Homo sapiens: one gene and its partner. The protein of the gene in region 1 purifies or fractionates together with the protein of each later gene. This does not show direct contact. Each region holds a gene or a part of one and is shown in the gene's direction. Other genes may lie near its edges. The genes, in order: DCT and LMF1.

Region 1 (3,809 bases):
AAAAATGACAAATGCCTTCACCGATGGCATTAATACAAAAACTCACATTTGAGGCAATTTAATTTGTTAATCTGATTCATACCTCTGACATGTAATAATACAGACAGTAAATAGGATTGCTGTTGACTGTGCAGGAGCCTCACAGTTATTTAAATTTCAGTGTGATGAACTCCTTTGGTATATCAGTTTGATTTCTGTCTCACTTTAAAACAAAAGAAGAAAACTGCCAGGCATGGTGGCTCATGACTGTAATCTCAGCACTTTGGGAGGCTGAGGTGGGAGGATCACTTGTGCCTAGGAGTTCAAGACCAGCCTGGGCAACATTATGAGACCTTTTCTCTACCAAAAACCTTTACAAATTAGCTGGGCATGGTAGCATGCACCTGTGGTTCCAGCTACTTGGGAGGCTGTGGTGGGAGGATCACTTGAGCCTGGGAGGTCGAGGCTGCAGTGAGCCATGATCGTGCCACTGCATCCCAGCCTGTGCAACAGGGTGAGACCCTGTTTCAAAAACAAAAACAAACTGAACAAAACTTGACAATAGGATTCTAAATTTTACAATTCTGAGCTTTTTTAGTGTTTGTTTATTTGTTTGTTTTTGGAGACAGAGTCTTGCTCCACTGCCCAGGCTGGAGTGCAGTGGTGCTATCTGGGCTCACTGCAACCTCTGCCTCCTGGGTTCAAGTGATTCTTCTGCCTCAGCCTCCCAAGTAGCTGGGACTACAGTTGCACGCCACCACGCCCGGTTAATTTTTATATTTTTACTAGAGACAAGGTTTCACCATATTGGCCAGACTGGTCTCAAACACCTGACCTCCTGATCTGCCCACCTCAGCCTCCCAAAGTCCTGGGATTACAGGCGTGAACCACTGGGCCCAGTCTTTAGTTTTTAAAGTATATTCATCCCCTGGTGAACTTTTCTAAGACAAACAAAATGGGGAAATACGAGTCAGGGCTACACTGTTCAGCTACCCTAGTCAATGCTCTTCAGTCTGTGACCTCTAGGAACACAATGTAGTTGAATACATTGGTCTGTTACTCCTTGCAGGCAGAGAATGGAGGACTGTGGAAAGTCTCAGCCAGTGGGTGTTGGAAAAGACAGAAAGGGTTTGGGCTTGTGCTAGGTGATTTGGGGAGGACTTTTGGAAGCTTTGCTCTGAATCAGATGTTGTCAGGAAGCAGGGGTATGCTTCCTGATTCTATGAGTGGGTATCTTGATAGAGTGATTATGTCTGTATATGGGGCAGACTAGACTGAGGTTAAAGCCATAATTGGTAAAACAGCAGCAGATGCTCATATTAGCCGGGAAAGGGGGTGTCACGCATCTTGCATCTTGGACAATGTTCATAATTTGTCTGTGCTCAGACACGGTTATGGGGTTTTCTTGTTTTTGTCCTGATCCGTCATGGTCACAGAGTGGCCTTGTCTGCTGTCGATGTTCTACGAAATCGTTTATGTCTGATAGGGGGACATCAAGTCCTCGTTGATAGCGCCAGGCCAGCTCTTGAATGTCAGGGGCTGCTTTTCTAAGTACAGGTCACTCAAGTTGTCATAAGAGATTTAGACAACATACACATTCATGTCTCAGCAGCCAATCCCCAAAAGTGCTCCTGCTTTACAGATACGCAACTCACCCTCGTCTATTTTAACCCTGTCTGTGTGTCTTCTGAGTTGTATGTCTTGAATAGATAGTTTTGGAGCAATTACAAGAAGAAATTTCACCTCTTCTCCTTTTTTATTTTGCCAGTATTTTGAGTTTATATTGTTATCCAGTTAGATTGTGTGATATCCAAAGACTCTCTGTTTTTCTCCAGAATTTTCCTCACCTTAATGTTAATCTTAGCAATGTGTCTTAGTCTGCTCAGGCTGCCATAATGAAAGACCACAGATTGGATGGCTTAAACAACAGAAATTTATATCCCACAGTTCTAGAGGCCAGGAGGTCTAAGACCAAGGTGCCAGCTGATTTGGTTCCTGGTGAAGACTCTCTTCCTGAGCCTTCTAGCTGCATCCTCATATAGTGGAGGGAGAGAGAGAATAAACTCTCTGATGCCTCCTTTTATGATAACACTAATCCAGGGCCCTATGGTTCTGACCTCATTAAACCTTAATTACCTCTTTCTAGGCTCTATCTCCAAGTATAGTCACATTGTGGGTTAGGGCTTCAACACACAGATTTTGGGGAAACACAGTTCAGTCCAGATATAGCATTTATAATGCATTGTCAAACCATCAGTTTATAGAAGTTTGTTTTTCTTTTCTTTTTTCTTTTTGAGACGGAGTCTCTCTCTGTCATCCAGGCTGAAATGCAGTGGTGCAATTTTGACCCACTGCAACCTCCGCCTCCTGCGTTCAAGTGATTCTCCTGCCTCAGCCTCCCGAGTAGCTGGGATTACAGGCACGTGCCACTGCGCCTGGCTAATGTTTGTATTTTGAGTAGAGACAAGGTTTTGCCATGTTGGCCAGGCTGGTCTTGAACTCATGACCTCAAGTGATCCTCGGGCCTCGGCCTCTCAAAGTGCTGAGATTATAGGCGTGAGCCAATGCACCCAGCCAGAAGTTTGTTTTTCTGGACTTTTTGGAGGCTTCATGACTGATTACAAGTCAATCAGTTTTACTTGATACAGACCAGGGCAATCTTGGGAATGTAATTGAACCACATGGAGCTTCTGCTTCCCACTCTGCAAAGTGTGGGTCTCTTGACCTGATCTGGTGGTGAAAATGTTGTTCTCAGTGAAGTGACTCTTAGTAGATTAGGACAATAGGAAACTGGTCTAGAGCCCGTCAAGTACAATACAAATGTTATCATAACAATAATAATGTGTTTTATAATGGTCAGAATTAGAGAACCATATGTTAGGTTTAGATTTTCAAACCTTAATTAATATTTCTTATCTTGTTCTCCAAAGCAGACAGTAATGCCCTAAGACATTTTACTAATAAGCACAAAGTCAGAAGTATTTCACAGGTGATTTATTATTGTTACTCAACCCAGGGTACAAAAAAAGGAGCTATGAAGAGGGAGAGTAAAGGTATAGCTTTCAATGATTCTAAGCTTGCCTGATGGGTGTGAAGTAGCTTTCTGGGGCTCCTAGATAGATTAAAGCATAGTCAGGTGAGCTTCAAGAAATCCTGAGACGGAATTAGTTGGTAGAGTTGTTCTTTCCTTCTAAAAAATGTTTCTTTCCTCATATTTGCATAGTAGCAATAAATGAAGGGGTTGTCAGAAGTCTGAATTAATGGTCCCAGCCTCTAACAAGGTGGGGGCTTATCTGTGACGCCGCCACAGCGATCTTTGCTTTTCTCTAGAATGCCTGCTTTGTTCAATGATTTTAACTTGATAGTTCACATCATTTTTTCTGGCTATCGTCTCAGCCATAGCTTATGCCAAGCATTTCTGGTGTCTGCTTTCTCAGCCATGTATCTGTACATCTATTTATACTATACGTCTCTAAGTATTTATTAAAGCATACATTGTCAACTGTACAATTTATACACACAATTCATATTCATAAGGAAAAATGTCATAATACTCCTTATCCAGTACTCCAATATGTTATAAGTAGAACAGTGGAATCCTCTGATAAATTAAGGATTATACCCCAACTCTTTCTCTCCTATTAAAAATGATGCTAGTAATTTGATTTTCTGCATCCCAAGTCTCCAGGATTGCTAAACCGTATCTCCTTCTTTTGAACAAGCCTGCTAAGTGGACAGAAATTGGCAACATTTTTCTGTAAATAGCCAGGTAGCAAATATTCTGGGCTTTGGAGGCCAGATGTTTTCTGTTGTAACTACTGAACTCTGCC
Region 2 (4,494 bases), on another chromosome or scaffold:
CAGGGTGTGGGGCTCCCTGTTCCCCACAGATGAGGGGAACAGTGTGGGCTGTGCCGGCCCTTCCTAAGCTGGCCCCCAGGTCACGAGGAGAGGTACGGGTCGTGGGCTCTGTGGAGGGACTTGGGTGCCGGGCGCCAGCCAGGGCCGATGCCTCCTGCGATCCCCAAGGCTCCGAGCCCTCAGGCACACACCACGCTCCCGGAGGCTGGGCCAGCATGCGGAGGATGTTTGTGTGTTCGTACCCGTTGCAACATCTTTAACAGGGTCCCATTTCACAGCTGGGCTCCTAAGGGGGGTTTCATAGAAAAGAAATGGAAACTAAAAATGAATTAAACCATAAGATGTACACGTATGCTACGGCCCCAGCAACACAGGGAAGGTGGAGGCTGAGAGGAAGCTCGGGCCACTGCTGGTCAGGCCTGGATTTGGGGGCCCGATGTCCACAGTCAGTCCCTGCCCACACAAGGCTCACACTGCAGGTGGTGAAGATATAATTAAACAGGTAATTAAACAAGCAATAAAGACGGGTCATTTGACCAACCCAGTGGCGATAATTGATACGCCAAAACACTAGGAAAGCTAGAGAGGCAAAAGAGAAGAATACATGAAAACAAAAACAAAAAACCAGGACAAATATTTCCAATATACACAAAAGAACAGGATTTTTCATACGTAAAGAGTGCTGACAAATGAATAAGGAGAAATCTGCACTTCCACCTAAGTGCCCCACAGTTTATTCACTAACCCCTAGGTCTCCAATGCCTACTCTAGCCTCACGCCCTTTCTTTCCTCTAAGGAATGCCTGTGACCCCAGCCCTTCCTAGCACCCGCTTCACATCAGCCTCCAGAACCCCGCTCCAGTCATCAGAGTGTAGAGTGCTGGCGTCCTCCTTCATGTTCTGTTTGGGGCATTGGGCAGTTAGCCCTTCCCTCCTGAGTCCTGAGTCCCCCTCTTCCCCCACAGCTTGAAGTCCAGTCCCAAGGGCAGGCAGGAGCTGGGTTGTGCAAAGGCGGAAGGGTGCTCAGGCTGGGAGAAAGGGGAGGGTCCCCCGAGCATTCCAGGCACAGCCCTGCCTACTCTGTCCCTTGCTGGCTGCGACGATCGCCCTAGCACCCTCCTCCGCAGAGAGTGAGTGTCAGCTGTGAGGCAGGGGCACGCAGTGGTAGCACCGCCAGGGCCTGTGCAGCCCACCTTCCCCAGGACCACAGCTGGGAAGGCGCCTGGCTGGGGGAGGGCACCTGGCCTCTGCAACTCGGACTGACGGAAGGCACGCGTGCCTGCCCCAGTGAGCTCGGGTCGGGCGACGCGCACCACCTCCCAGGTACCCGGCCCCGCGCCCTACCCGCAGCAGCGCCCAGCGAGAACTGCGAAGGAGGCAGGCTCCGGGCACCCGCTCCCGCGCGTGGGCGGGGCCGGCTGGAGGGGGCGGTGCCTCCGGGACTGTGAGCGGGGCCTCCCGGGGTGTGGGTGGGGCCTTCGGCCGTGGGCAGGGCCGGCCAGGGAGAGGCGGGGCCTCCGAGAATGGGCGGGGCCTCCGAGAATGGGCGGGGCCTCCGGGAGTGCGCCCTCCCCGCACATGCGCCCTGACAGCCCAACAATGGCGGCGCCCGCGGAGTCGCTGAGGAGGCGGAAGACTGGGTACTCGGATCCGGAGCCTGAGTCGCCGCCCGCGCCGGGGCGTGGCCCCGCAGGCTCTCCGGCCCATCTCCACACGGGCACCTTCTGGCTGACCCGGATCGTGCTCCTGAAGGCCCTAGCCTTCGTGTACTGTGAGTGCCGGGCGGGCCCGGGACATCCGCCAGTGTCACCTCCGCGCACCACGACCCCCGCCCTCCCTCGAGACTCCTCCGCGCGGTCTCGCGGCCGCGGCGCCCCCACGCAGCCCTCCTTCCTGCTGGGGCCCGGGCAAGGCGGGGCGGGCAGGGCAGGACAAGGCTTGCTGGCGACAGCGCACCCGGCCCTACCCCTGTCGCCGCCTCGAGCCTCCGGCCTGGGCTCCTGGGCTCCCGGTTCCACCCGCAGCCCCGAAGTTGCACGGCCGCGCCTGCCAGGACCGGCTCGGGGCTATGCGAGGCGGGGCCGGCCCGGGCCCTGGCCCAGGAGTTCCCAGGAGAGCTGGGCAGGTGGAGGGTCACCCGTCCGTGCGCAGGTCGGGGGTCTGCGTCCTGGCTGCGGGGCGGGGGGCGGCCTGGAGAGGCGAGGCGCTCCTGCTGTCCCCGACACAGCGCTGTGCTGACGGTGAAGGTTCCCACTGTAACTGGACGCCCGCACGCCACATCCCTGCCGCGTGCGGCCCCTGCCAAAATCCGAGGAGCCGGCCCGGGAGCCTCCTTCGCGTCTCCCAGGGGCTGAGGGAAGGTGACTGGCTGGTGGCCAGACTGGAGTTTCTCCTTTAGTGTTCTCGACTAGCTCAGTCTGCGTTCGGGAAGATTCCCAGCGGAGGTCTGGGGGCAGCTCCGGAACCTCATCTGCAAGTGAAGCCTGCGCCTCACTGTGGGATGTGGTTGGCCGGGTCCACTGGCGGAGACCCTTCACCCCACAGCTGTGCGGGGCCCGCGTGCGCAGCCTACAGAGCAGAGCTCTGAGAAAAGTCAGTTCACGCTCAAAACCTCTGGATCCCCTGGCCAGGGGCAGCTGGCGATTCCAACTCCCTCTCTCCCCAGTCCCTACAACCCAGAACTGGTTTGGAAGAGAACGGTTCTGTGATCACGGTGACATGTGATCACACGGATACATGTTTCATAAGCCCAACGTGTCAGGAGCTACGAACCTCAAGTGAGGCTCTCAAATGAGTATGGAAGTGAGGGGAGCCTGCCAGGCCGAGATGCAGCCAGCGGGGCGCGTGGGCAGTCACCGTCCCAGAGGGCTCCGGAGCTGCTGGCCCCGGGCGTTGCCCACGCGTTGGTTGTAGGCCGTGGGCATTGGACGTCTCCCTTTCCTTCCATCGTCTGCTTCCCTCACGTGTGGAAGGAAAGGGTCAGGTTGCAGAAGTTCTTCTTTGCACAGCCTTTGTGCCACACACGTCGCGGGAAGTTTGGTAGCCTGGTTGTGCTGGAGTGATGCTCAGTTCGACGTTTTGTGTGACATTTGTGTGATACTTTCCACCTCCTGGTGCAAAGTGATGAGACGCGCTCATCACTACAAGGTTTCCTGTGGGATTGCAGTATCGGCTTCAACTGGGTCTGTGTCTCTCTCTCTCTTTCTTTAAAGCAACTATTTTATTTTATTTATTTATTTTTTTCGAGACGGAGTCTCACTCTGTTGCCCAGGCTGGAGCGCAACGGCACCATGTCGGCCCACTGCAACCTCCGTCTCCTGGGTTCAAGCGATTCTCCTGCCTCAGCCTTCCGAGTAGCTGGGATTATAGGCACGCACCACCATGCCTGACTAATTTTTAAAAATATTTTTAGTAGAGACAGGGTTTCACCATGTTGGCCAGGCTGGTCTCGAACTTCTGACCTCAGGGCCTCCCAAAGTGCTGGGATTACAAGCGTGAGCCACTATGCCCGGCCTGCAATTATTTTAAAAAGTAGTTCTTCCCAGGTTGCTTTTCCCTCCACAGTATTAAACAGTCATTTTAAATGTTGGTGCTGTCACTTAGCAAACGATGAAGTAGAGATAAAGTGAAGCTGTGAGGCTCTAATAGGCCTTCCACAGGGGAGCCCGAGATACAGCAGGAAGTCCCAGCGGCCTTGCCTCCGGAGCACAGCTTCATAAAACCAGCTCAGACTCTTTCAAACGAGCTGAGGCTCCTTTGATCTCCGCAGGGATTCTCTGTTCAATTCAGAAGGAACTGCTTTTAAGCCACTGGGTCAAGCGGATATTTTAAGCCTGGTGCCCAGCATTGAACATTTCTCCTTGACATATGCACGTTCTTCTGTCTTGTGAGTACATTTGGGGTAGAATCAGTGTTTTTCTGCTGTATCAAGGAACCAGTTTCCCATCTTTCAGGGACATGGTTTTCTGGCTGAGCTGGCCCAGGGCAAGCAGGCAGTCATCCTGCATTTATCTCCTTCTAGAAAGTTCTGGATTTTACTGGGACTGTGCGCTACTCCCTGTTCCTCAGAATCCCAGGGTTTTTCCAAGTTGCCATAGGGGCTCTCCAAATATTTCACTTGATACTGAATTTTACAATGTTTATAGCTATTGAAACACTTGTAATTAAACACATAACCAAATGTATTCTGTGGAAACTCCCCTTGTTAAAAGACATTGAACTGAGGGAGGCTTACCCTTAGGCAGATTGTCTCAGCAGACATGTAGTAAAGATGTACAGATCAGGAGAACACAGAAACGCCTGCCCTGTCGGGGAAGCTTCGAAGCCAGACCTGGAGAGGCCGGCTGCCAGCGACAGGCCTCTGCATTCAACCTGACTTTGCATCCGTCCTGGGGCTGGCTCCTTCCCACCGCGGGCCTGGGCGTTTCCATGTGCTGCCACCGAGGTGTGTAGGTGCTAGGGGTGTGCTCACTGCACACAGACGTGCATACCGCGG

Evidence for each region.
Region 2: the proteins of DCT (region 1) and LMF1 purify together in Homo sapiens (affinity purification with mass spectrometry; one large-scale study listed by BioGRID and IntAct). This does not show direct contact.

Annotation. Positions count from the first base shown.
Region 1 is NC_000013.11:94,455,594-94,459,402, reverse strand, and holds part of DCT (L-dopachrome tautomerase isoform 1 precursor), read left to right. Parts: intron 1-3,809. UniProt on the Homo sapiens protein: Plays a role in melanin biosynthesis. Catalyzes the conversion of L-dopachrome into 5,6-dihydroxyindole-2-carboxylic acid (DHICA).
Region 2 is NC_000016.10:968,064-972,557, reverse strand, and holds the start of LMF1 (lipase maturation factor 1), read left to right. Parts: upstream 1-1,573; 5' UTR 1,574-1,577; coding exon 1,578-1,770; intron 1,771-4,494. UniProt on the Homo sapiens protein: Involved in the maturation of specific proteins in the endoplasmic reticulum. Required for maturation and transport of active lipoprotein lipase (LPL) through the secretory pathway. Each LMF1 molecule chaperones 50 or more molecules of LPL.